Linked DNA regions of Homo sapiens. The protein of the gene in region 2 interacts with the protein of the main gene of each other region in a pairwise test. Each region holds a gene or a part of one and is shown on either strand. Other genes may lie near its edges.

Region 1 (3,500 bases), on a different chromosome or scaffold from region 2:
CCATAACATCCCCAGCAGTGCTGGGTGCAGAATCAACTTTTAATAATCTCCGGGAATGTGTGCACTCTCCTGTCTCTGGGCCTCTGCTCAGGCTGTCCCATCCCAGAGTCTGACCTGCATTTGCCTAGCCTTCATGGCCACACTTAAGGTGACCACCTCTGGGCATCTTCCTGGGGTCTATTGAACAGAACACATCACTTCCTGCCCCTCTGCTCCTGAAGCACTTTATGTCGCAGTGTTGTGGATTAGAGTGCCCCTGGATGAGCCCTGTTTGTCTGTGTTCTAAAGCACAGGTGCCAGAAGGCAGAACCTGTGTTTTCTCTGGCCCCTGGGAGAGGGACTGGCATGCAGCAGCTGCTGGAGAATAGGAACTGCATCTTTTTTATCTTTGGATCCACCACAGCATTTTCACATTGAAAAGAGGTCAGTAGGTTTTTTTAGGGTGGTATGGCCGTAGACCCCATCCAAGTACTAGCCAGGCCTGACCCTGCCTAGCTTCCAAGATCAGATGAAATCAGGTGCGTTCAGGTGAGTTTTGTTTTGTTTTGTTTTGTTTTGTTTTGTTTTGTTTTGTTTTGTTTGAGACGGAGTCTTGCTCTGTCACCCAGGCTGGAGTGCAGTGGTGTAATCTCGGCTCACTGCAAGCTCTGCTTCCTGGGTTCACGCCATTCTCCTGCCTCAGCCTCCCGAGGAGATTTTTTTAATTGTTCATTTAAATAGAGTTCATGCCCTAAAACCTTTGCGAGAACATCCTTTTACAGATGAAAGTCCAGATATGCCATCCTGTATTGTAGCCATGGTCGGTATAACCATGCTCGTTTCCAAACTGTCACAGCACATTGCATATTTTCTCTGATTTGTGAAAGATAATATGTAAAAAGTTTCACAAAAGCATGTGTGCACAAACATACTAACAGAGGTTTGGTGTTTTTTAATATTGAGTCATGTAATGGGGAAAAAAGTTGAAATCAGCTGTAGCTCTGAAAGCTGAAATGTGTACTGCCATATTTGTCATGGTTTTCCCTGCTGTTCTGGAATTCTTCTGTGGGAGCAGGAACACTATTTTATATATGCATATCTTCTCTTCATGAATGCCAGAGACTGGGTTTTAAACTTTAAAAAGTCTCACTCATACTAGGTGTCCATTCTTGCTGAGTGATTGAATTATTATTCTACAAGAAGATAAAGGAGCTGTTGCCGCACAAGCTGTCTGGTCTTTTGGGTGATTTGTATTTTACAAACAAACATTCATTTCCTGTCTACATTTGACCTCTTTTCCAGGGAGGTTCCCCTGAAGGATGCTAAGGAATACGCTGAATCCATAGGTGCCATCGTGGTTGAGACAAGTGCAAAAAATGCTATTAATATCGAAGAGCTCTTTCAAGGAATCAGTAAGTACCTGAAATTGGGTTTTCAGCCCAACTTGCATTTTTATGCTTCTGGGAGTCAAAGGATAACATTTTAGAACTCTGAAGTGAACTTTTCCTCTGTGTGAATTTATCGGATGCCATGGATACAAAATCTACAGCTATGCAGTTGTTAATACCCACTTCTATTATCCTCTCGATTCTAGATTTCCATGATTCTGTACTGGAACCTGTTCACTCTGAGTTCTGTAAATTAAAATGAAGTAATCCTGTTGCAAAAATAAAATTTATTTTAATTGAAAATTATGCATTCTGTAGCATTTTATGTTAGGAGGAGAGAGAAAATAGACAAGGTATAGAACTCAAGGTCACCCATTAGATGGGATGACTCTAGGTAAACTGAGGGAACCTTCCAGTAACTTTTTTTGCCTGATCATCTCCTACAAAAAGTAATGTCTCCATCCTGTTTGACCTGAAATTGGGAATTGGATACAGGGTTGGCGTGTACAGGTACCCCATGTGTCTGGTGAGCTAATTAGGGAGGGTGACAGCCTCCTTCCTGGTCCCAGTGCTGGGTCCCGTTATGCTCACTGTATGCCGGCTCCCCGGGAATAACCTTATCAACCAGAGCTGGTTCCCAGCTAATGGCTCTGCCAACACATCTATCTGCAGCTGTGAGGCTTCCAGCTCAACAGATTTAACCTTCATAAGTTCTCTGGTTGTGTCATTCTGTTCCGGATTCTGCCAGAGAAGTCCCTGCTGACAGCCATCTGGGAAAACTGCTCTGAGACACCCTCAGGAAAGTTCGACCGGAGCATTATCAGGGACGTTGGGAGAAGTACAGGTGTTTGATGAAATACTGGCCCTGAAGTTCCTGGAATAGCCACCTTAGGAGGAGTTGAACCCCAAAACAGTAATTGTCCTCAAATATCTTAGCTCCAGACAACTCCAGAAGGGAAACTGATGGTTTGATCTCTTTCCTGCCTGAGATCGTTTTTGGCAGAGCTCTCAAAGTCAGAGAAGCCGTGGCTTCCCAGAACAGTTTTGATTTCTGTTTAACTGGTTTGAGTGCATTACTTTAGACTCCAAGAACCCACAGGAGGGAATCTTTTGTTTATGTTGGCTTGATGGAGAATTCATTGGAGATGGGGAATTCTGACCTGTCTTACCTACACTATGCAGAGATATGCAAAAGAAATGTGCAAAAGAATGGCTTGGAGCCTCCCCTCCCCAGCTGCTGGCCCTTTCCTTCACTGGGGTCTTCACTCTCTTCCCTTCTTTCCACCTTCCCTTTCTTTCCTCCTTTGATTTCTTACTCTCAACAGAATGGTTTCAGGCTCCTTGCCCTGAATGGCTGAACTCTAGCAGGCTGGGGCTGGAATTTCATGTGGGAAACCCCATGTCCCCACATTCCTCTCCCTTCTCCATCATGGTCAGTGGGTGCAGATGCTCTCTGGTGTTGTGTCACTCTGGGTGACATCTAAGTTTGGGCTCGAACTCATTACATTAGCCTCACATTTCCTCAGATTAAACTCATTCTCTTCTGGTGGCGTTAGGCTCTTCTGCTATGCTCAGCTATGAAACATTTTGTTTTTACAGGTGGTTTTAATGAATGAAGCTAGATAGCTCCTGAGGACGATTGCCTTAGCACCTTCCATCCTTACAGCCCCGCGTCTTCCGCAGAGCCCCCTCCTCCTCCTTAGCTCCCTGGCCTTGGAAGACCCCCAGCACAGATATCAGTGGTCAGCCAGGGGAGCCTGGTGCCTTGTATGACCTGAACTTGAGCTTGAGATCTCTGCACCAGCTGGGAAGCTTTCTGAAGTTTATGAAAGTCATTGTTAAAATTTAAAAATATCAAATAAGGACCTGAAAGAGAAGAAGCCTGAGTAGGAAGTACTGTACTAATATCTTTTTTCTTTTTTTTTCTGAGACAGAGTCTTTGTTGCTCAGGCTGGAGTGCAGTAGTGCAATCATAGCTCGCTGCAGCCTCCACCTCCTGGGCTCAAGCAATCCTCCGACCTCAGCCACCTGGGTAGCTGGGACTATAGGTGTGCACCACCACACTCAGCTAAATTTTTGGATTTTTAGTAGAATCAAGGTCTCGCCATGTTGCCTAGGCTGGTCTCAATCTCC
Region 2 (2,664 bases):
ATTATGCATGTCAGTCTGTGAGCTGCCAAGTTGTATGATAAAGCTTGTAAATTTCCCGGGAGTTCAGAGAATTAAGTATTAAAAGGGGCTTGAGCTGGCCCTTAGAAGATACGTTGGTATCAAAAAAGCTTTCTGGGAACTCCTGTGTTTAGAATCCTTTTGGGTTACTGACTCCTGTGTGAAACCACAGTCTGTAGATCTTCCTGGAAAATGCCCATACACCCAGCTACACATACAATTCCAGAATTTGTAGACCCTGGCTTAATTTTTTTTTTTTTTTTTAAATTCTAACCCCAGAGAGAAGCAAGTACAGGCAGCCAGAACTGAAGGGAAAACTTTCCTTGTAGGCAGCAGATGCGTTAGAGGGCAGAGTATGTTTTTAAAAAATAAAAGGCAGTTGTGAGAAGACAGTTTTCTTGGCAAACTTTGTTTCTGAGTGGGGAAGCTTTGCACTGAGGGTAAGTCCTGGTCTTTGAAATACTGTAAATATGCAGAGGCAACATCAATAGGAAAGGCTCTGGAATTAGGAACTTTCTTATGGGCTGTGCTAAATCTCCTTCAGCGAGGCTGGCTGTGGCTTGCTGGAGACAAACCTATTTACCTTTCCTCTCTGTAGGTAGAGGTGCGGCCCATGATGTACGTGGCACTGACCTATGATCACCGGCTGATTGATGGCAGAGAGGCTGTGACTTTCCTCCGCAAAATCAAGGCAGCGGTAGAGGATCCCAGAGTCCTCCTCCTGGATCTTTAGGAGGAACCCACACACCCTACAAGTTGATCATGCAGGAACTGAAAACCAGTCTTCTCCCTGTCCCCTCATGGGTCCCGGGTTAGCCTGGTGACAGGCAGACACATGCTGTTGGCCTCAAGCAAGGAAGCAGAGCACTGTGTAACCAGCAGTCACAGGTCTTTTCTTGGCGTTCCTGCCAGGCTCTCCCTCTCTGCACCTGTCTCATAGCCTCGAATATCTTAATTCCTTAGGCTTAAGAGAGAGAGCCTTAATGGATGCTCATTCATATTCCTGCCTTTCTTCCATCAGCTCTCTGCAAAGATGATTTTGCTTTTCCCTAGTGCTGGTATACTATAGAGAAACCCCTGGGGACCATGTGATTAAGTTCCTATCTTTTGAAAGTTTGTTCTGCAGAGACTTCTAGGAGGATGCTGTGCCTCCCAAGCTCAGAGCAGCCTCTGTCCTGGCTGTGCACATTCTCCCTTGATTCCACTTGTGTGGAGGGATTGAACACAGGCAAAGAGGTGCTGCTTTGCTTCTTCAATGGCACCTTCATTCTCCGTTGTCATTGACTTCAAGATGCCTCTTCTACCTCTTCCAGGAAGCACAGGCCAGGGGATCTGGGTGTGTGAGTGGGAGGAGAGGGCAGAGGTCCCCTGAGGTCATGCATTGTAATCATCATAGAAGGAGAGCCCAGGCCTGCCCTCACGCTCTCCATCATAGGCTGACACCAAGAAGACTCGTCTTGGCACAATCTCACACAGCTGGGGCTGTAGCAACCCTTTCCAACCCCTTTGCTGGTTGCTGGGCCTCATTCTAGCACCTTGTTCTTAGAGCAGATTCTAGCACATCATGGCAGTGGGACCAAGCGTGGTCCCGAGGAAGGGCCAGAGCCTGGTAGAGACTAGGGAAGGGAGGTCTCCTCTAGACTGACTCACATTGCCTTGAGCTTTTCAGTTAAGTTGCTGTAAGCACCTGGGCTGAGGAGGCAGTTTTTGTTCCTTCCTGCGTTATAGCGGGGCCTTGTCTCTTCCTCTGCAGGACACAGATCTGGAGGACGTGGACTGGGGTAGGAAACCACCCTGAGGGTGTTAGTACCTAGTGGTGAAACGGATGAGGTCATTTCTAAGGTGTGTTGCCCGTGGATCTGGGCACAATCATTGGAATTCCTTGGAGCCACTGGGATTCATGGCTTTGTATCCAACTGCATCCAGGCCTGAGGCTGCTGACGTTTGACACCAGGGCCAGTAGAGAGTGCCCTTTTGTATCTTAAGCCAAGAAGTGAGGCCTGGGGGTGGGGGAGGGGGGAAGGGGTGGGAGCCAATACTGAGTGCCTGCAGCATCTACTACTCTGTCTTCACTATTCAGAACTTGTAACTAAAGTATTTAAAGAAACTGATTTTAAATGCAAATTAAAGGGCAGATATTCTCAAACAGGGTTCCTGTATCTGTTCCTTTTGGCTACTGAGGTGGTACAAGTCCCCAGCACTGTTGCACTGAAATTATTGAAAGCCACTCAAGGTCCTGTTGCTTATTTTGTGAAATCAGAAATCCCTTATGTGGAACTTAACACTCATAATTTGACAGAAGGTAGAACCCTGACTGCCAGCCGGGAAAGTGTTGCCAAAAAGAGTCAACCTCTGTAAAAATATTTGAAGAGATTTATTCTGAGCCAAGTGTGAGTGACTGATGGCCTGTGATACAACTCTTAGGAGATCCTGAGAACATGTGTCCAGGGTCGTCTGGCTACAACTTAGTTTTATACATTTAATACATTTTAGGGAGACATAAGATACCAGTCAGTACATGTAAGATGTACAGTGGTTTGGTCTGGAGAGGCAGGACAGCTCAAGACCTGGGGATGTTGTCATAGGCAGAATCAAAGATTTTCTGATTGGCAATTGGTTGAAAGAGTTATTATCTAAAGACCTGGA
Region 3 (3,290 bases), on a different chromosome or scaffold from region 2:
AGTTTAGTCACCTCTGAGCCACCCATCACCGCCAAAGTGTGGGGGAAGGATAGCTGCAGATTGACAGGCGAGGCTCAGAAACTCCTGGCTTAGATTGAAGTGTGTGTGATGGGGGTGCAGCTTAGAGGACCCCCTCTGAAAGGGATGGAGATGCTGATGAGAACAACACTACCACTTGAAGGTGAACATTCCCTGTCTGGTTGGACTGAGTCAAGGGTCTGCGGTGCAGCATCTTCAGCTTGAGAAAATGAGGTTGTCAGTTTCCAGCAAGGCTGACATCCACCAGACTGATTTCTCCGATGTTGCACTTGGCTGGCTTATGCCTCTGAGATCGGTGCCACGGCTGTATTTATTTCAGTTGTCACTGCTGCTCCCTCCTGCTATGAAACGACACTGCCAGTGCCAGCAGTGTCCTTGGGAAAGGCAATATTTATGAAGGGCAGAAGAGGCAGCCCCAAGAACCTAAAGACTGCAGGCTGCTAATTGCAGGAAATGACTTTGGAAGGGCAGGCTCTTGTCCAGTTTCAGGGCTGAAATGCCTGGCGAACTCCATTCAGCCATCACATATTGACTGAGTGGCTGCTTAGCATGGGCCACCGCGCTAGGCTCGGGACAGCTGGTCTTTCCGGCCATCTTTCTTGCTGGCAAGTCAGCAAACATTACCTTCTTAGTCACGTGCATATTTTTGCCTTCATTCTTACCACCTGGCCTGCAAAGTTTGCAGGAGGGCCAGGTATATTCACTTGTGTCTTCTGGGTCCTTTCATTGCTGACAGGCTGTGATGGCCCTCTTGAGCCTTGGGCAGGGTGGGTGAGGTGCAGATGACCAGGAGTGTGTGAATGCCTTCCAGGAGGTGGCTTTGTTCCGTGCCTCCCTGCCCCCATCGTCACTACCAGGTCTGGTACGGAGTCGGTGCTCAGTGTTTGCAAAACAGAGCTGAAAACGGACTTTGGGAGGCCGAGGCAGGCAGATCACCTGAGGTCAGGAGTTTGAGACCAGCCTGGTCAACATGGTAAAACCCCATTTCTGCTAAAAAAAAAAAAAAAAAAAAAAAATTAGCTGGGCATGGTGGCGGGTGCCTGTAATCCCAGCTATTCAGGAGGCTGAGGCAGGAGAATCACTTGAACCTACGAGGCAGAGGCTGCAGTGAGCCAAGATCGTGACACGACACTCCAGCCTGGCTGATAGAGTGAGACTCCGTCACAAAAAAAAAAAAAAAAAAAAAAAAACCCTGAAAACGCAATCACTAAGGCTCGGTCAGGGAGTATGTTCAAAGAGCTTGCAGCGAATCACTCAATTCTGTCTACACCTCAAAATCTCAAAATCTTCCTGGAATATATATATATATATAAAATAACACAGCAGCCCTGCATGCCTAGCCATGGGAAAGCACAGCCTCCAAAGGATAAGGAAAGCTTTTTGAGTAAATACAACATCCTAAAGTGACAATCTTTGAAACAAGGCCGTTCACCTGTTGCCAAGTCCTGTCCTTCCAGGACCGGGTGTCACAGCCTGGATGTTAACAGTCGCGTTCTCAGACCCCCGCCTCTGTATCTGTCTCCCGGTTCACCAGCAAACACTTCTCTGAGAAACCACCTGGGTGCAGGGCAGATGCCACCACTCAGCAGGTGTTTCTCTCCTGTGCTACCAACCTGGGAAAAATGGAGAAAGCTTGCTTTGGGGGCTGGAAGGATGGGGTGTTTAAAACATTTGCTCTTCTGCAGTGCCTTTCAAAAGCTCTATCAAGAGCCCGAGGCAAAAGAAAAGATGTGTACCCCTCTGTACACTGAGCAAATGTCCTCCCATATTTTGAACCAGGTGGGAAAAGTTAATGAAAGCCCTACAGTCAGGAAATGTGACTGCGAAGCCCCCGCTGCCCCAGTGTTTGCACACCACTGGCAACTCTCAGAAACAATCAGTCCCATTGCACGGGAACACGGGGTTTTGAAACAAACAGCAGCCTGTTTTTATTTAAAGTCGTGATCCCTTGCTTATCGTAGATTTTTTTCATAATTTGATTTTGGAAAATATTGCACACAAATACTACTCGATCCCTGAGTTTGTGGGCACTTCCTTACATTTTGCACCCATGAAAATGCCTCCTCCGCCTCCAGGTCAGGCTCCCTGGAATGGGGTGTTTAGTGTCATTTCCAGAGACAAGCTGGCAGTTGGCTCTTGTGTCAGAGAGAAGCCCACAGTCACAGTGACACCAGCCCGCACTGTGGAAGGGCTTGCTATGTGCAGTGCCCTGAGCCAAGTGTTCCACAGACATTATCTCATTTGAACCCCATAGCAGCCCTGGAAGGAGGCATTGGGTGGGGAACCAAGTTGTCCTGGGGAGTCAGTGCCAAGATGTGAGCCCCGGACGCGGCCTCGTCACTCACAGCCCCGTGCTCCTCAGCTCCCACCCACTGCCGCTTGACAGTCGTTTTAATCACTACCTGGGCTGTGGCGAACAATGCCAGGCTCTGATAGATCCTGCTGTCTCATTTCTCAACCTAGTTTCCCTTAACTAATATTTCATGGCTATCGTTAATGTGCGTTTTTCATCGAGTAATTTCCACAGCCCGAACTTGTAACACATCCCAATGACAAACGTCCCCAGTTCGGAAGCCCCCGTCAGTGGCAATGTCACCCTTGCTGCTGCCTCGACACCTTCCGACAGCCCATTCAGTTTTATGATCGCCCTGTCCCAGTGATCACTACTGAACCTTTAAGAATCCAGATGCATTTCAAGTTTAATTGAATAAAATTCTTTGTATAATAAATTCCGCATGAATGCTACATAAATCAGTGCCTGGAAGGATTTGTGGCTCATCCCTCCCCTCTGGCGGGGCCTGAGAATCTTCTGGCAATACTGACACAAGCTGGAATAAATGCATCTTTGCAGTCAGTCCAGCTAGAGGCAGGCGGCACAGTTTTAACTTGCCTTGGCCTATTGCTTTTCTTCTCTCAGAGTCCTCCTGGAAGATAGTGCTAAAGTCCAACAGAGGCAGGGACAGGCAGATTGCGGAGACCTAGAAACTTTGGGGACATCCCTCGTGTTCTCCCATTCCACAGAATCAGAAACTTCTCAAGCTGTGGTTTGTCACCTTTGGAATGCACACACACATATTCACAAGTTTGCATCCAGTCATAGGAAGTCCATGGAACCTCCCGGTAAGAATCCCTTTTCTAAGAGAACCCATGCGACCCTCTTCGGGAGCTAAGTCAGGATTCCCAAGGCTGCCTTCAGCAGCCTGTTTCAGGGTCAGATAGCTCCAGCCTGGAAGGGTGAGAAGATGCACTTG
Region 4 (3,500 bases), on a different chromosome or scaffold from region 2:
AGTCTCGCTCTGTTGCCCATTTATTTATTTGAGGTGGAGTCTCGCTCTGTTGCCCAGGCTGGAGTGCAGTAGCACAATCTCACTGCAACCTCCACCTCCTGGGTTCAAGTGATTCTCCTGCCTCAGCCTCCTGAGTAGCTGGGATTACAGGTGCGTGCCACCACGCCTGGCTAATTTTTGTATTTTTAGTAGAGACGGGGTTTCACCATGTTGGTCAGGATGGTCTTGAACTCCTGACCTCATGATCCACCCACCTCGGCCTCCCAAAGTGCTGGGATTACAGGCGTGAGCCACTGCGCCTGGCAGATCTGATCTTTAAACCCACTATTTCCATGTTTGCAAATATATTTTAAGATAATAGCTGGATGCAGTGGCTCACACCTGTAATCCTAGCACTTTGGGAGGCCAAGGTAGGCGATCACTTCAGCTTAGGAGTTCAAGACCAGCCTGGGCAACATGGCAAAACCCTGTCTCTACTAAATATACAAAAATTAGCTGGGTGTGGTGAGACATGCCTGTAATCCCAGCTACTCAGGAGACTGGGGCAGGAAGAATTGCTTGAACCTGGGAGGTGGAGATTGCAGCGAGCCAAGATCGTGCCACTGTACTCCAGCCAGGGCTGGAGTAAATTAAATAAATAAATAAATAAATAAATAAATAAATAAATAAAAAACACTTATGGGCTGGGCACGGTGGCTCACACCTGTAATCCCAGCACTCTGGGACACCAAGGTGGGAAGATCACTTGAGGCCAGGAGTTCACGACCAGCATGGGCAACATGGCAAAACCCTGTCTCTACAAAAAAATGCAAAAATCAGCCAGGCATGGTGACACACACCTATCGTGCCACTGCATTCCAGCCTGGGTGACAGAGCAAGACCCTGTCTCAAAAAAAATAAATAAAACTAGGCCGGGCGCAGTGGCTCACGCCTGTAATCTCAGCACTTTGGGAGGCCGAGGTGGGCGGATCACGAGGTCAGGAGACCGAGACCATCCTGGCTAACATGGTGAAACCCCGTCTCTACTATAAATACAAAAAATTAGCTAGGCATGGTGGTGGGCGCCTGTAGTCCCAGCTACTCAGGAGGCTAAGGCAGGAGAACGGCATGAACCTGGGAGGCGGAGCTTGCAGTGAGCTGATATCACACCACTGCACTCCAGCCTGGGTGACAGAGCAAGACTCCGTCTCAAAAAAATAAAATAAAATAATTAAAAAATAAATAAATAAATAAAGATAAAAAACACGATGCTAAGTGACAAAACCTTTAAAAAGATTACAAACAACCTATATGACAATTAGTGGAAAACAAATGAAATATATCCAGAAGATACAACTATATCTATTAAAACTGATGATTTGCTGGGTGCGGTGGCTCACATCTGTAATCCCAGCACTTTGTGAGACCAAGGCGGGAAGATCACCTGAGGTCAGGAGTTCAAGACCAGCCTGGCCAACATGGTAAAATCCCATCTCTACTAAAAATACAAAAATTAGCAGGGTACGGTGGTGCACATCTGTAATTCCAGCTACTTGGGAGGCTGGAGCACAAGAATCACTTGAACCTGGGAGGCGGAGGTTAGGGTGAGCTGAGATCGCACGCCACTGCACTCCAGCCTGGACGACAGAGCGAGACTCTGTCTCGAAAAAAAAAAAAAAAAAGACGATTTGACAACTACATGTAGTATGTGACCCCAGATCAGGTCCTGTACTGCAGGGGAAATGCTACCAAGGACATTATTGGGAAAACTGATGAAATGCCACATGGATTCAATTATTGTAGCCAAGTTAAATTTCTTAAACTTGATAGCTCTACCATGGTTACATAAGAGAATATTCTTCTTAGGAAATACACATATATTAAAGGGTAAAGAAGCATGATGTATTGTAACCTACCTTTCAAGTGGTTCACAAAAAATAAATCTCAAGGTACACAAAGAAAATAAAGCAAATACAAGCAAAATGTTAAATACTGGTAAATCTGTATAAAGGGTATATAAAAGTTCTCTGTATATTTTTGCAATGCTCTTTGAGTTAAAAAACATTTTTTTAAATCATACAATTTGGCTGAGCACAGCGGCTCATGCCTGTAATCCCAGTACTTTGGGAGGCTGAGGCAGGATGACTGATTGACTCCAGGAGCTCAAGACCAGCCTGGGCAACATAATGGGACACCATTTCTACAAAAAATTTAAAAATTAGCTGGGCATGGCCAGGCACGGTAGCTCACACCTATAATCCCAGCACTTTGGGGAGCCAAGGCAGGTGGATCACCTGAGGTAGGGAGTTCGAGACCAGCCTGGCCAACATGGTGAAACCCTGTCTCTACTAAAAATACAAAAATTAGCTGGGCGTGGTGGTGGGCACCTGTAATCCCAGCTACTCTGGAGGCTGAGGCATGAGAATCGCTTGAACCCAGGAGGGGGAGGTTGCAGTGAGTCGAAATCACACTCCTGCACTCCAGCCTGGGTGACAGAGCGAGACTCCGTCGCAAAAACAAAAATTAGCTGAGCATGGTGGCACACACCTGTCATCTCAGCTGCTCAGGAGGCTGAGGTAAAAGGATTACTTGCACCTGGAGTCAAGGCTGCAGTGAGCCATGATCGTGCCACTGCACTCCAGCCTGGGGTGACAGAGTAAAATCTTGTCACAAAAACTAAGAGGCTGGGTGCAGTGGCTCACATCTGTAATTCCAGCAGTTTGGGAGACCAAGGCGGACAGATCACCAGAGGTCAGGAGTTCGAGACCAGCCTGGCCAACATGGTCAAACCCCAACTCTACTAAAATATAAAAATTAGCCAGGTGTGGTGGCGCACACCTATAATCTCAGCTGCTCTGGAGGCTGGGGCACAAGAATTGCTTGAACCCAGGAGGCAGAGGTTGCAGTGAGCCAAGATCGCACCACTGCACTCCAGCCTGGGTGATGAAGCGAGACTCTGTCTCAAAAAAAAAAAAAAAACTAAACTAGAATAAAATAAAACAATATACATATCTATCATATGATTATTTATTGACACGAAACTGTATTCCTTGTACAGTTTAGAGAATAAAGCACATAGAATATTAATGAATTTCTATAATGTATATACTAATATGTATTTTTTATATCTTATAATTTTTATATTTATATTTTTTCTCTGCACAAAAATATGTACTGTTTATATAATGAAAGCTACCATTTTGAAAAGAAAAACAAAATCCAGAACCAAAATTGTACATACAGTGAGTATGGTTTCAATTATGACATTCATACAAAAACAACGGAAGGAGAAAAAAGATAAAGAGCATATTCAAGTGGCTGCACTTATGTAATGGGATTGTGACTGAGTGTTGTTCTGCTTCTTTGTACTTTTCTGAACTTAGTGGTAATATATTACTTTTATATGTAGAAAATAAAAATAAAATTATTAAGCATTAAAAATCTCTGGAAAAAATATATAAAAATATTAATAGTGTTGAATTTGGGTGGTGGAACTTAACATTTCACATACGAATTTTTTC
Region 5 (3,500 bases), on a different chromosome or scaffold from region 2:
TGTGCTCTTGGACAGGTTACTTTATTTCTTTGGACTTCTGATTTTTCACTTGTGTGTAAAATGAGGATTATAATAGATTTCATAGGCATGTCCTGAGGATAATCTTATAAAGCATTTAGGCATGTACCTGGCAATATGTAATTAAATGACCTTCAGTGACTGTTCAGAGGATGTTATCTAATACTTGTAAACAAAAGCAAATCTGTTATTGAAGTATTGATTGGTGCTCTTAACTGTGACTGAGATTATAGCCATCTATGAAATAGTTTGTATGAATTACCATTTCAATGTTGAACAAATTTTTTTTTTTTTTTTTTTTTTTTTTTGAGATGGAGTCTCACTCTGTCACCCAGGCTGGAGTGCAATGGCGTGATCTCGGCTCACTGCAACCTCCACCTCCCAGGTTCAAGGGATTCTCCTGCCTCAGCCTCCCGAGTAGCTGGAATTACAGGCACCCGCCATCATGCCCAGCTAATTTTTGTATTTTGTAGATACGGGGTTTTACCATGTTGGCCAGGCTGGTCTTGAACTCCTGACCTCAGGTGATGCGCCCACCTTGGCCTTACAGGCATAAGCAACTGCACCCGGCCTTGAACAATTAATGTATGACTTCCTGCTAACTTATATTGGTCTTAAAGGCTACCTGACCTTGTTATCTGTTTGGCGGTTTATTTTATGGAGCACTAAACACAATTAGAGACCAAAAGATCTTTTTTAGTGGCCCAGCCCAAAAGACAATTTTTAGAAAGCTGTTGTGATGCTAAATTAAATAAGGGGAAACATACAGGTGGCACTTGAGGCAAAGCAAGTTTAATTAGAAGATGATGAGAACATGGGTAGAGATTTGTAGATACTGTAGCATACTTTTAGAGATCTTAGAGGTTCATGACACTAGTTATTTTTTATTTTATTTCAAATTTTAGTCCTTTAAAATAGTATCACCAGCACTATATTTACATTGTCAGCTATGATTAAAACCCTTTTCTGGCTTATACTTACAACAGAGAGGGAAAGAGATCATCTTCCCAAAGATAAACCATATTTAGGGAAAAAAATCAAGTAGGAAGATTATTTGAGGGTAAGGGGTGTGTGTGTGTGTGTGTGTGTTTCCATCCTCAAATACTTATAACAGTCATGTTTTTAGTGTTAACACCAACTCAACTCTAATTTTACAGCTAAGAAAGTTGAACCCCCCAAAGATGCTGACTTACCCTAATTAAGTCAGCCAGTAATGCCAGAGCCAGTGCTAGATTAATCAAACAACCTTTCACCACATTGTGAACTTCTGAAGGGCAGAGACTATTTACTTATTAATATCTTAGTACCACACATGGTAGATGCTTAGTAAACATTTGACTAGAATATTGAACAAGGTGGCTTAAGTCTTTCTTTGTAACTCTCACATCACGAACACTCCAGCTAATTTGGGTTGAGTATCACCAAAAAAGGTGGGAGGGTTGCTAGAGAGAGTTTAACATTCTAAAACCTTGTTCCTCTAAGTGGATTCCTCTAAGCAACATTGGCATCACCAGGAAGTGTATTAAGAAATGCAGGCTGTGCTGGTGGCTCACGCTTGTAATCCTAGCACTTTGGGAGCCCAAGGTGGGAGGATCACTTGAGGCCAGGAGTTCGAGACCAGCCTGGGCAGCATAGCAAGACCCTGCCTCTACAAAAAAAATAGCCAGGCATGGTAGCACATGCTTGTAGTCCCACTTACTTGGGAAGCTGACGCAGGAGCCCAGGAGTTGAAGGCTGCGGTGAGTTATCATTATACCAGTGCACTCCTGCTTGGGCAACAGAAGAATACCCCATCTCAAAACAGAAAAAAAATGCAGAATCTCAGGCCCCATCACAGACCTACTGAATTTGAATCTACATTTAACAAGATTCCCGGGTGATTCACATGCACAGCAAAGTTTGGGAAACATAATTAAAGTCCCTCACAGGGGAGCAGGAGAAAATAGTAGGAAACAAGTGTCATTAGACTTTCCCTCTTGCCAATCCAGAAAAGTTGGTTGCTATCTGAAGAAGCCTCAGGATGAATGGAGGAGGTAGTGAGTTACCATCAGCTATTTTTGTGTTCTAGGGTTTTAAAAAAAAAGCCAGAAAATTTAACATTTAATTTTTCTGCAGTGGTTCACTGTCAGCTGTGAATAGCCATTATCTTTCATCTCTTGAAGTTCTGTAAAATTGGAGATTTTTTACCTAAACATTATTCTGAATGAATTTATAAATCTATTTTTCTCTTAGTTATGTCTTTTTCAGCATTCTGCTTCATTAGGTCTTTAAAATACATTGAAGTATATATGCAGCTCTGTTTCGAAAGTTTTTCTTTGATCAGAATATTGTCATGTAGCCTTGTTTCCTTGCAGTTGGAATGTTAAAGAAATTCATCAGGCTGCTGACTATCTCAAAGTGGAAGAGGTGGTCACTAAATGCAAAATAAAGATGGAAGATTTTGCTTTTATTGCTAATCCTTCTTCTACAGAGATATCTAGTATTACTGGAAACATTGAATTGAATCAACAGACTTGTCTTCTTACTCTGCGAGATTATAATAATCGAGAGAAATCAGAAGTATCTACAGATTTGATTCAGGCAAATCCTAAACAAGGCGCGTTAGCGAAAAAGTCATCTCAAACGAAAAAGAAGAAGAAGGCTTTCAACTCCCCGAAAACAGGGCAGAATAAAACAGTGCAATATCCCAGTGACATCTTAGAGAATGCATCTGTTGAATTATTCCTAGATGCAAATAAACTGCCCACACCTGTAGTAGAACAAGTTGCACAAATAAATGATAATTCAGAACTCGAGTTGACATCAGTTGTGGAAAATACTTTTCCAGCACAAGATATTGTGCACACTGTTACAGTGAAACGGAAACGTGGAAAATCACAGCCAAACTGTGCTCTGAAAGAACACTCTATGTCTAATATAGCCAGCGTCAAGAGTCCTTATGAGGCGGAGAACTCCGGGGAAGAGCTGGATCAGAGGTATTCCAAGGCCAAGCCAATGTGTAACACATGTGGGAAAGTGTTTTCAGAAGCCAGCAGTTTGAGAAGGCACATGAGAATACATAAAGGAGTCAAACCTTACGTCTGCCACTTATGTGGAAAGGCATTTACCCAATGTAACCAGCTGAAAACGCATGTAAGAACTCATACAGGTGAGACGGGTGTGTGGGGAGATATTATTTTTATACTGTGACTAATATAGTGTATTTTTATAGAGAGTACTTAGCACACACTACTTGTGACCAGAATTTGGTATATTTTTCTATTCATCAAAGTATTTAACAGTGTTAAACTGTTGAAAATTTATTTGTAATTGTAACCAAGTATTTAATGGCTGTTTAAGCCCTAATGCATCAACTCCTTATACCATTTTCCCTCCAAATAAGTATGTTGATTCTAGCTTACCAAGTATTTAACAGAGACAAAGACATTAAAACTGATAAAGAGAAAATGTAATTACAATTCAGGCCAATTTTCAGATATTGC
Region 6 (3,202 bases), on a different chromosome or scaffold from region 2:
TCCACCGGGTTCCATCCACGCCCAGGCTCACCCAGGCAGCCCACAACCATGGCAGGCCTGGACTTAAGCCTCGGGGCAATCGCCACCCAGGAGCTGGAGGGAGAGCAGAGGCGGTGGACCTGGGGAACGAGGCCACCGGCGAGAGGCTGGTGCAGCAGCGCCATCCACACCAGGGTCGGCCATGCAGAGCCCGTCCCCCACCCCCACTGCTTCTGTGTCTCACGTGGACCTCAGGGCGAGTGCACAGTGACCCTGGGGGAGCCACGTCTGCAGGACGGGTCTCAACTGCTTCCCATCCCTGGCAGTACCTGCTGGGGCCATTCACATCATGGTCACTTGGGAAGGGTCCACCAGCGTCCAGCACAGACCCCGTCACTGACCTGCACACTGTCCGTGCTCCCTCGCGTAGCCAGAGATACACTCTTTACAGTTTCCTGGGCCTTCCCCTGTGCAGCCCACACAGCTGGAGTCACACTCTGCAACAGGGAGCCAGCGTCAGACCCCGACATGCACAAGGCACCAGTGCCCGTCAGACCCCGACATGCACAAGGCACCGGTGCCGCCAGGATTTGGGTTTTCTCCTCATTCATCACCAAGTGACTTTATAACGATCTGTCTCTGTCTCCCGGCAAAAGCACAGACTCGCGTCCTGCTGTGCAGCAGGTGCTCCCGGAGAGCCATGGTGCAGACCACCTGGCTTGGAACTCTTTGGGAGAAACTGGGTGCTACAGAGATTCTAGAAACAAACCCACCTCCAGCTCGGTGACCATTGGTTTGCCAGCCTGCCAGGAGCTTCCTAAGAATAACCAGAGCCTCTCGCATGGCTTCCAGTATTAGTGGCTCACTGAGGGACCCACTGTCTGCACTCCCAACAGTGAAAACTGCCTGGGGCTGTCACACACACGGGGCAGAGGCGGCCTCCTCCCTGCTGCTGGGACTGGGGATCAGCACAACTTTTCTGGGGCACTATGGCTCTAAAAGACACATTCCCTTGACTGAGCGATTTGGAAATTAATCCACAGAAAATCATAAGGAATGTGAAAAGTTTACCTTCAAGTGTTCACAGTTTATAAGTTGAAAAACTGTTATGACGTAAACGTCCAGCAACAGACATTGTTGTAAAAGTATGAAATAATGGCTCCAAAATCATTAGCGTGACAGAGAAACCACAGGACGCAGAGACGTTCGCAACAAGCTGCTGAGTGGAAAACACCCGACAGGCGCTGCGGAAAGTCACGCAGGGCACGTTGCGGGGGCGCTGGGGGGGCACGAGCAGTGGAGGCACCAGCAGGGTGCGCTCTCCAGGGAGTTCCTGGGTTTTTAACTGTTTTCTTTTCATCTGACTTGAATTTTCTGATTTTCCTGCAGCAAATACCTATGACTTACTTTGCCACACTAAGTGTTCTCAGGGCAGGCAGGATGTATGGAAGTGACACTAAGAAGCCATAAATGAATGTTGACAAAGGCAGCAACGAAACCCGGCAGGCCCCGGAGTGCAGACCCGCCCGCCTGGCCCACCTTCGCACGTGTAGGAGCCGTTGGCGTTCTTACAGAACTGCGCAGCGCTGCAGGGAGGCGGCTCGGCCGCACACTCGTCCACATCTGGAACAGAGCGGCACAGCTGTGAGCGGCCCAGGACAGCCCGGCCAGGGAGCGGGGAAGGACCGATCATGGCCTGACACAGCCCGTGGCCAGGGCCGGCTGGGGAAGGGCAGGGAGGAGGGCAGCCCCTGAGGAGGAATCATCTCAAATGCCATCCTCGGAGGCCCCACGCGGCAGGGGAGGGGATGAGGCGATGGCCAGGCCCTGTCCTTAGACACTCAGTGCCAACCGGGGCAGGCGCCCCATGAGGATGGCGACACATTGTGTGAGAGTGAGACAGTGAGTGCCCCCACACCTCACGCCCCCACCTCACGCCCCCACACCTCACGCCCCACCTCATGCTCCCCCACACCTCACGCCCCCCACACCCCAAGCCCCACACCTCACGCCCCCACCTCACGCCCCCACACTTCACGCCCCCCTGCCTCCCGCCCCCATGCCTCACACCCCCCACGCCTTACGCCCCCATCTCACACCCCCCACGCCTCACGCAGGCGCCCTCCTCCACCCCCGGGCCGCTCCTCACCCACACAGGCGCCCTCGTCCAGCACCCAGCCCACTTCACACTCGCCGCAGTCTCTGTTGGTCAGGCCCGAGCACGTCTTGCAGGACTCGTCACAGGCTGGAAGGCAAAGGCGGGCCTGGGTACAAACCCCACTCTCAGGTACCAGCTTGGGGACAAGGCTCGTTTAAAAGTGAGGAATTTAAGAGGGAAAAGCAACACGGGATTTTCAGTGCCCATGAATTTAAAATTCTCAGCAAACCAGGACTCCAAGGAATTTTTAATAACCTGGAGAGAAGGCAGCTATCCATACTCTGGAGCTGTAGCCTGGCTGGGTGTGCGTGTTCCGGCCACGGATCCATGCGTGGCCCACGCCACGCCAACATCCAAGAGACAGACAGCAAGGCGGGTAAGAATCGGAGAGGCCGGTCCTGACTGCTGAGGGGCGTAAGAATCGGAGAGGCCGGTCCTGACTATCGATCCACGGGTCTGTCTGCCCAGAATAGCCTAGGGGCTGCCGGCCAACCACACACTCACGTCCGAGACACTCAGAGTTTTCCTACATATCAGTGACAACCAGGGAGAAAACGTCCTTTGGAAAGATGCCACTCATAACGGCCTGCAGGGATTTGACAGATGCTGCTCTCTGGGCCGGTGCGGGGCCCACACGGCACCTCCAGGACCTGTGCACTGCATGGCCCATCACAACTCAAGGTCGGGGTGGACCTTGAACTAGAGAGAAAGGTGAGTAGCTTCTCCCTTCTGAGGGCTGTTACGGGACAGGAAGTGCCCGACAACCTCTGCCTCTATCCTCTGATGTTTTCATTCATCCTTCTGGGCCCTCGAAGCTTCCTTGGACATCTGGGGTTAAAGATCAACAGGCCCCTGTTCCCATCTAGGCAGGCAGCTCCAGCAAGGGGCTCTTGTCATCCCGCCTCAACCCCGGGGCCAGCCCAGGCGTAGCCCGTACCTGTGCAGATGCTGTGGGTCTCGTTCCGGAGCGAGCTGAAGTAGCCGTCCATGCAGTCAGTGCACAGCGGGCCCTGGTACCCCATGTGGCACCGGCAGGACCCGTCGCCCTGTCTGCTCCCATCTCCG
Region 7 (4,064 bases), on a different chromosome or scaffold from region 2:
ATGAGAAGGACTATAGAACACAAAGTTAGACTCCAGAGGGGCCTCAGCAGTGCCCAGAGAGCTTGTTTAAAAGGGCACTCTTGGCCAGGCACGGTGGCTCACGCCTGTCATCCCAGCACTTTGGGAGGCCGAGGCAGGTGGATCACCTGAGGTCAGGAGTTCGAGACCATCCTGGCCAACACAGCAAAACCCCGTCTCTACTAAAAATACAAAAAATTAGCCAGGTGTGGTGGCGCATGCCTGTAGTCCCAGCTACTAGGGAGGCTGAGGCGGGAGGATCACCTGAGCCTGGGAGGTTGAGGCTGCAGTGAGCTGTGATCACACCACTGCACTCCAGCCTGGGTAATAGAGCGAGACTCCGTCTCAAAAAATAAAATAAATAAAAGGACACTCTCACAGATTACAATTCCTAAATTTGGGGGGAGGTTTCAAACCTCCTTTTTTTTTTTTTTTTTTTTTTTTTTTTGAGATGGAGTCTCGCTTTGTCGCCCAGGCTAGAGTACAGTGGTGCGATCTCAGCTCACTGCAACCTCCGCCTCCTGGGTTCAAGCGATTCTGCTGCCTCAGCCTCCTGAGTAGCTGGGATTACAGACATGTGCCACCATGCTTGGCTAATTTTTGTACTTTTAGTAGAGACGGGGTTTCACCATGTTGGCCAGGCTGGTCTCGAACTCCTGACCTCGTAATCCGCCCGCCTCGGCCTCCCAAAGTGCTGGGATTGCAGGCGTGAGCCACTGCGACCGGCTGCCTCCTTTTTTTTAAAACAAATGTTCCCAACTTATTCCGCGAAATACTGTCAAAGAACTCACTTTGAATTTCAGCATAGCTGTTAAATATGTTGTTTTTGTCTCATAGTCAACTTCCAATTTGTGTTTTTAAAAGCCTAGATAGGTTGAATTACTTTGAGCTGAAAACCAAAACAGTTAATTATGTCAGCTCCTCCACATCCCATTCCCCATATTTAAATTAGAAAATCGTACACTCTCATATTTCGATTTTTCTTTTCATTTTGAATGCTCTATTTTATACAGAGCTGGATGTGACCTAGACATGGAGAAACTCATTTATGTCTAGCAGAGAAGCAGCCTATAGCTGCTCTGTAGCTGCTGCTGTGTTTTGGAAAATAAGCCAGGATTAGATTATGTCTGATCACTTTCCACATCACATGATGAACAGCGATTCAGAAGAAGCGTAAAATGAATCCTGCTGAGCAGCCCCTCAGCTACCATGTGGTTAACTGGCGGTTTCCTTCCCTCCCTCCTGTGTATTCCTCATTAGAATCTATGACTGAAGAGGATCGGCTAAGAGTGGTTCCTCGCAGCTTAAAGGGAGGCACTTTTCACACTCTGTCTTAAAATCAGAAGTTGAATTCATGAACACATATGATTTAGATAGAAGTCATGGGATGCAGCAGTTCTTCAACGAAAACCAGGAGATCTGACACATGTGAGTACTGGGAATGTGCCTGTGGTTATGAATGAAAAGGGGAAAATGAGCTGCCCTCACCCTCTTCTCCTTTCTCATTTACTCCCACGATGCTCAAGCTGCCCTGTGTGATTTGCACAAGGCATCGTTAGAGTAGCATAGGAAACTACATTTAGGAAGATGTAGCTTTGAATTTATGAAGTACCATAAAGTATTGTCTTAGAGATATTTTGTGTTTGATTTAATTTCATTCGATAATGTACCAATATAAAATCTCAATTTAAAACTCAGTGGCAGGGAACAAGAAAGGCAGTGTAATTTATATGTGTTTCTTCAATACTTTTATAAATAGCTATATCCCTACTTTTGTGACATTTAGTAGCATCATTGAATTTTTATTGGATTTTATAACTCAATGATCACATTATTTCTATATCTATTCAACACAGAACTTCATGAGATTTGCATCACGTTTTAAAAATAATCTAGGAGAATTGGGAGAATGCTAGATCATCTGTTTCCAAAAAAAAGGTGTATTGTTTCTAAATAGATGGCATGCCTTTCTGTACCCCCATATAATTAGAAGCTTAAATATTCACTTTGTTTATTTTGTACTGAGGTTCTTTCTCATGGCTATTGGCATCTAGTTGAAACAAACTTGAGCATTTAAGGGATAGAGTTTCCAACAAGCAAATTAAAATAAAAACAAGTAAATAAGCTGGGACAATTAATATGAGTAATTTGCTCTTAAACTCCACTTCTTTGATGTCTAGGTTATAGGTAATTCCCCCAACTTCTATTCCACGTCTTGCCTTTGGAAGTTTATTCAGGCTTAAGGTGGAGGGTTTAGGATGCAGAGTGTGCTATACTAATTAGCGTGGGATGTTTTACTTTGGGAATCAAATGTTATTCTCCTACCCAGCTGACTTGTGCTGATGATGTAGGAAACTCATCTCTGAAAGTAGGAAGGGACATAGGAGGTGTACTGACTCTTTCAAATCTTTAAGCATGTCATGAAATAAATCTTTCAAAAGCTCCATCTGAACTCTACTGCTGTAGTAGACGTTTATTAGCAGAGAGTAAAGAGAAATTATCTTTTTATATCTAGGATTACTCACAGTTCTTTAAATTTAGCCAAATTTCCTAGGTTAAAAAAAAAAAAGCCAAGTCCAACTTGTAAAAACAAATCCTCTCTCTTTTTGAAATACTTTTCAACTTTTAAAACATTGCATGTAAGTGGAAATATTAGCTTAGATTTTTGGATTGCTTTTTCTTTCAAATACCTGTGATTTATTGAGGTGAAATTCACGTAACATAAAATTAGCCATTGTCAAGTGAACAACTCAGCAGCAGTTGGTATGTTCACAGTGTCGTGCAACCACAACCCCTATGTACTTCTGAGACATTTCCAACACTCCAAAGTAAAACCCCTTATCCATTAAGCACTTTCTCCTCTCAGCCCCTGGCAACCACAAATCTATATTCAGTCTCTATGGATTTATCTATTCTGGACATTTCATGTAAATGGAGTCATATATTATGTGACCTTTTGTGTCTGGCTTTGTCCATGTTGTAGCATGTATCAGTACTATATTCCTTTTTATTGTGGAATAATATTTCATTGTATGAATATGCCACATTGTATTTATCCATTCATCAATTGATAGACATTTGGATTGTTTCAGCTTTGTTTTTTGTTTTTTGTTTTTTTTGAGACAGTCTTGCTCTGTCACCCAGGCTGGAGTGCAGTGGGGCGATCTCGGCTCGCTGCAACCTCCGCCTCCCAGGTTCAAGCGATTCTCCTGCCTCAGCCTCTGGAGTAGCTGGGATTACAGGCACACACCACCACACCTAGCTAATTTTTGTATTTTTGGTAGAGACAGGGTTTCACCATGTTGGCCAGGCTGGTCTCGAACTCCTGACCTCAGGTGATCTGCCCGCCTCGGCCTCCCAAAGCGCTAGGATTACAGGCGTGAGCCACTGTGCCCGACCTGTTTCAGCTTTTTGACTGTTATGAACAATGCTGCTGTGAACATATGTTTTCCGTTCTCTTGGGTATATACCTAGAAGTGGAATTGCTGGGTCATACGGTAGCTTTATGTTTAACATTTTGAGAAATTTCCAAGCTGTTTTCCCAAGTGACTGCACCATTCTACATTCCTACCAGCAGTGTATAAAGGTTTCAATTTCTCCACATTTTCAGCGATAGTTGTTATTGTCTGTCCTTTTGATTTTAGTCATCCTAGTGGGTATGAAGTGGTATCACACCATGGTTTTCATTTGTATTTCAGTAGTGACTAATGACATTGAGCATCTTTTCATGTGTTTATTGGCTATTTGTATATCTGCTTTGGAGAAATGTCTATTCAGATCATTTACCCATTTTTAATTGAATTATTTATTTTTATATTGTTGTAAGATAAATTTATATATTCTAGATACAAGTTTCCTATCAAATATGTGACTTGCAAATATTTTCTCTCATTTGTTGAATTCTCTTCATCCTTTCTTAATGGTGTTCTTTGAAGCACAAAAGTTTTTACTTTTGATGAAGTTCACTTTATTTTTTCTTTGGTTGCTTGTGATTTTGGTGTCATATCTAAGAATCCATTCCCGAGTCCAAAAAGATTTTTGCTCAC

What was found.
Region 1: the proteins of DLST (region 2) and RAB31 interact in binary tests that used the Homo sapiens proteins (3 or more experiments, as listed by UniProt).
Region 3: the proteins of DLST (region 2) and MMAB interact in binary tests that used the Homo sapiens proteins (3 or more experiments, as listed by UniProt).
Region 4: the proteins of DLST (region 2) and ISY1-RAB43 interact in binary tests that used the Homo sapiens proteins (3 or more experiments, as listed by UniProt).
Region 5: the proteins of DLST (region 2) and MYNN interact in binary tests that used the Homo sapiens proteins (3 or more experiments, as listed by UniProt).
Region 6: the proteins of DLST (region 2) and CRELD2 interact in binary tests that used the Homo sapiens proteins (3 or more experiments, as listed by UniProt).
Region 7: the proteins of DLST (region 2) and PPEF1 interact in binary tests that used the Homo sapiens proteins (3 or more experiments, as listed by UniProt).

Annotation. Positions count from the first base shown.
Region 1 is NC_000018.10:9,844,301-9,847,800, forward strand, and holds part of RAB31 (ras-related protein Rab-31), read left to right. Parts: intron 1-1,281; coding exon 1,282-1,391; intron 1,392-3,500. UniProt on the Homo sapiens protein: The small GTPases Rab are key regulators of intracellular membrane trafficking, from the formation of transport vesicles to their fusion with membranes.
Region 2 is NC_000014.9:74,901,580-74,904,243, forward strand, and holds the end of DLST (dihydrolipoyllysine-residue succinyltransferase component of 2-oxoglutarate dehydrogenase complex, mitochondrial isoform 1 precursor), read left to right. Parts: intron 1-616; coding exon 617-751; 3' UTR 752-2,164; downstream 2,165-2,664. UniProt on the Homo sapiens protein: Dihydrolipoamide succinyltransferase (E2) component of the 2-oxoglutarate dehydrogenase complex. The 2-oxoglutarate dehydrogenase complex catalyzes the overall conversion of 2-oxoglutarate to succinyl-CoA and CO(2).
Region 3 is NC_000012.12:109,553,215-109,556,504, reverse strand, and holds the end of MMAB (corrinoid adenosyltransferase MMAB precursor), read left to right. Parts: 3' UTR 1-2,790; downstream 2,791-3,290. UniProt on the Homo sapiens protein: Converts cob(I)alamin to adenosylcobalamin (adenosylcob(III)alamin), a coenzyme for methylmalonyl-CoA mutase, therefore participates in the final step of the vitamin B12 conversion.
Region 4 is NC_000003.12:129,140,564-129,144,063, forward strand, and holds part of ISY1-RAB43 (ISY1-RAB43 protein), read right to left. Parts: intron 1-3,500. UniProt on the Homo sapiens protein: Component of the spliceosome C complex required for the selective processing of microRNAs during embryonic stem cell differentiation. Required for the biogenesis of all miRNAs from the pri-miR-17-92 primary transcript except miR-92a.
Region 5 is NC_000003.12:169,776,396-169,779,895, forward strand, and holds part of MYNN (myoneurin), read left to right. Parts: intron 1-2,372; coding exon 2,373-3,166; intron 3,167-3,500.
Region 6 is NC_000022.11:49,921,634-49,924,835, reverse strand, and holds part of CRELD2 (protein disulfide isomerase CRELD2 isoform b precursor), read right to left. Parts: coding exon 3,075-3,202; intron 2,966-3,074; coding exon of another isoform or gene 2,931-2,965; exon of another isoform or gene 2,842-2,930; intron 2,543-2,841; coding exon of another isoform or gene 2,393-2,542; intron 2,225-2,392; coding exon 2,129-2,224; intron 1,603-2,128; coding exon 1,519-1,602; exon of another isoform or gene 1,376-1,518; intron 477-1,375; coding exon 381-476; intron 1-380. UniProt on the Homo sapiens protein: Protein disulfide isomerase. Might play a role in the unfolded protein response. May regulate transport of alpha4-beta2 neuronal acetylcholine receptor.
Region 7 is NC_000023.11:18,706,381-18,710,444, forward strand, and holds the start of PPEF1 (serine/threonine-protein phosphatase with EF-hands 1), read left to right. Parts: upstream 1-1,264; 5' UTR 1,265-1,400; coding exon 1,401-1,446; intron 1,447-4,064. UniProt on the Homo sapiens protein: May have a role in the recovery or adaptation response of photoreceptors. May have a role in development.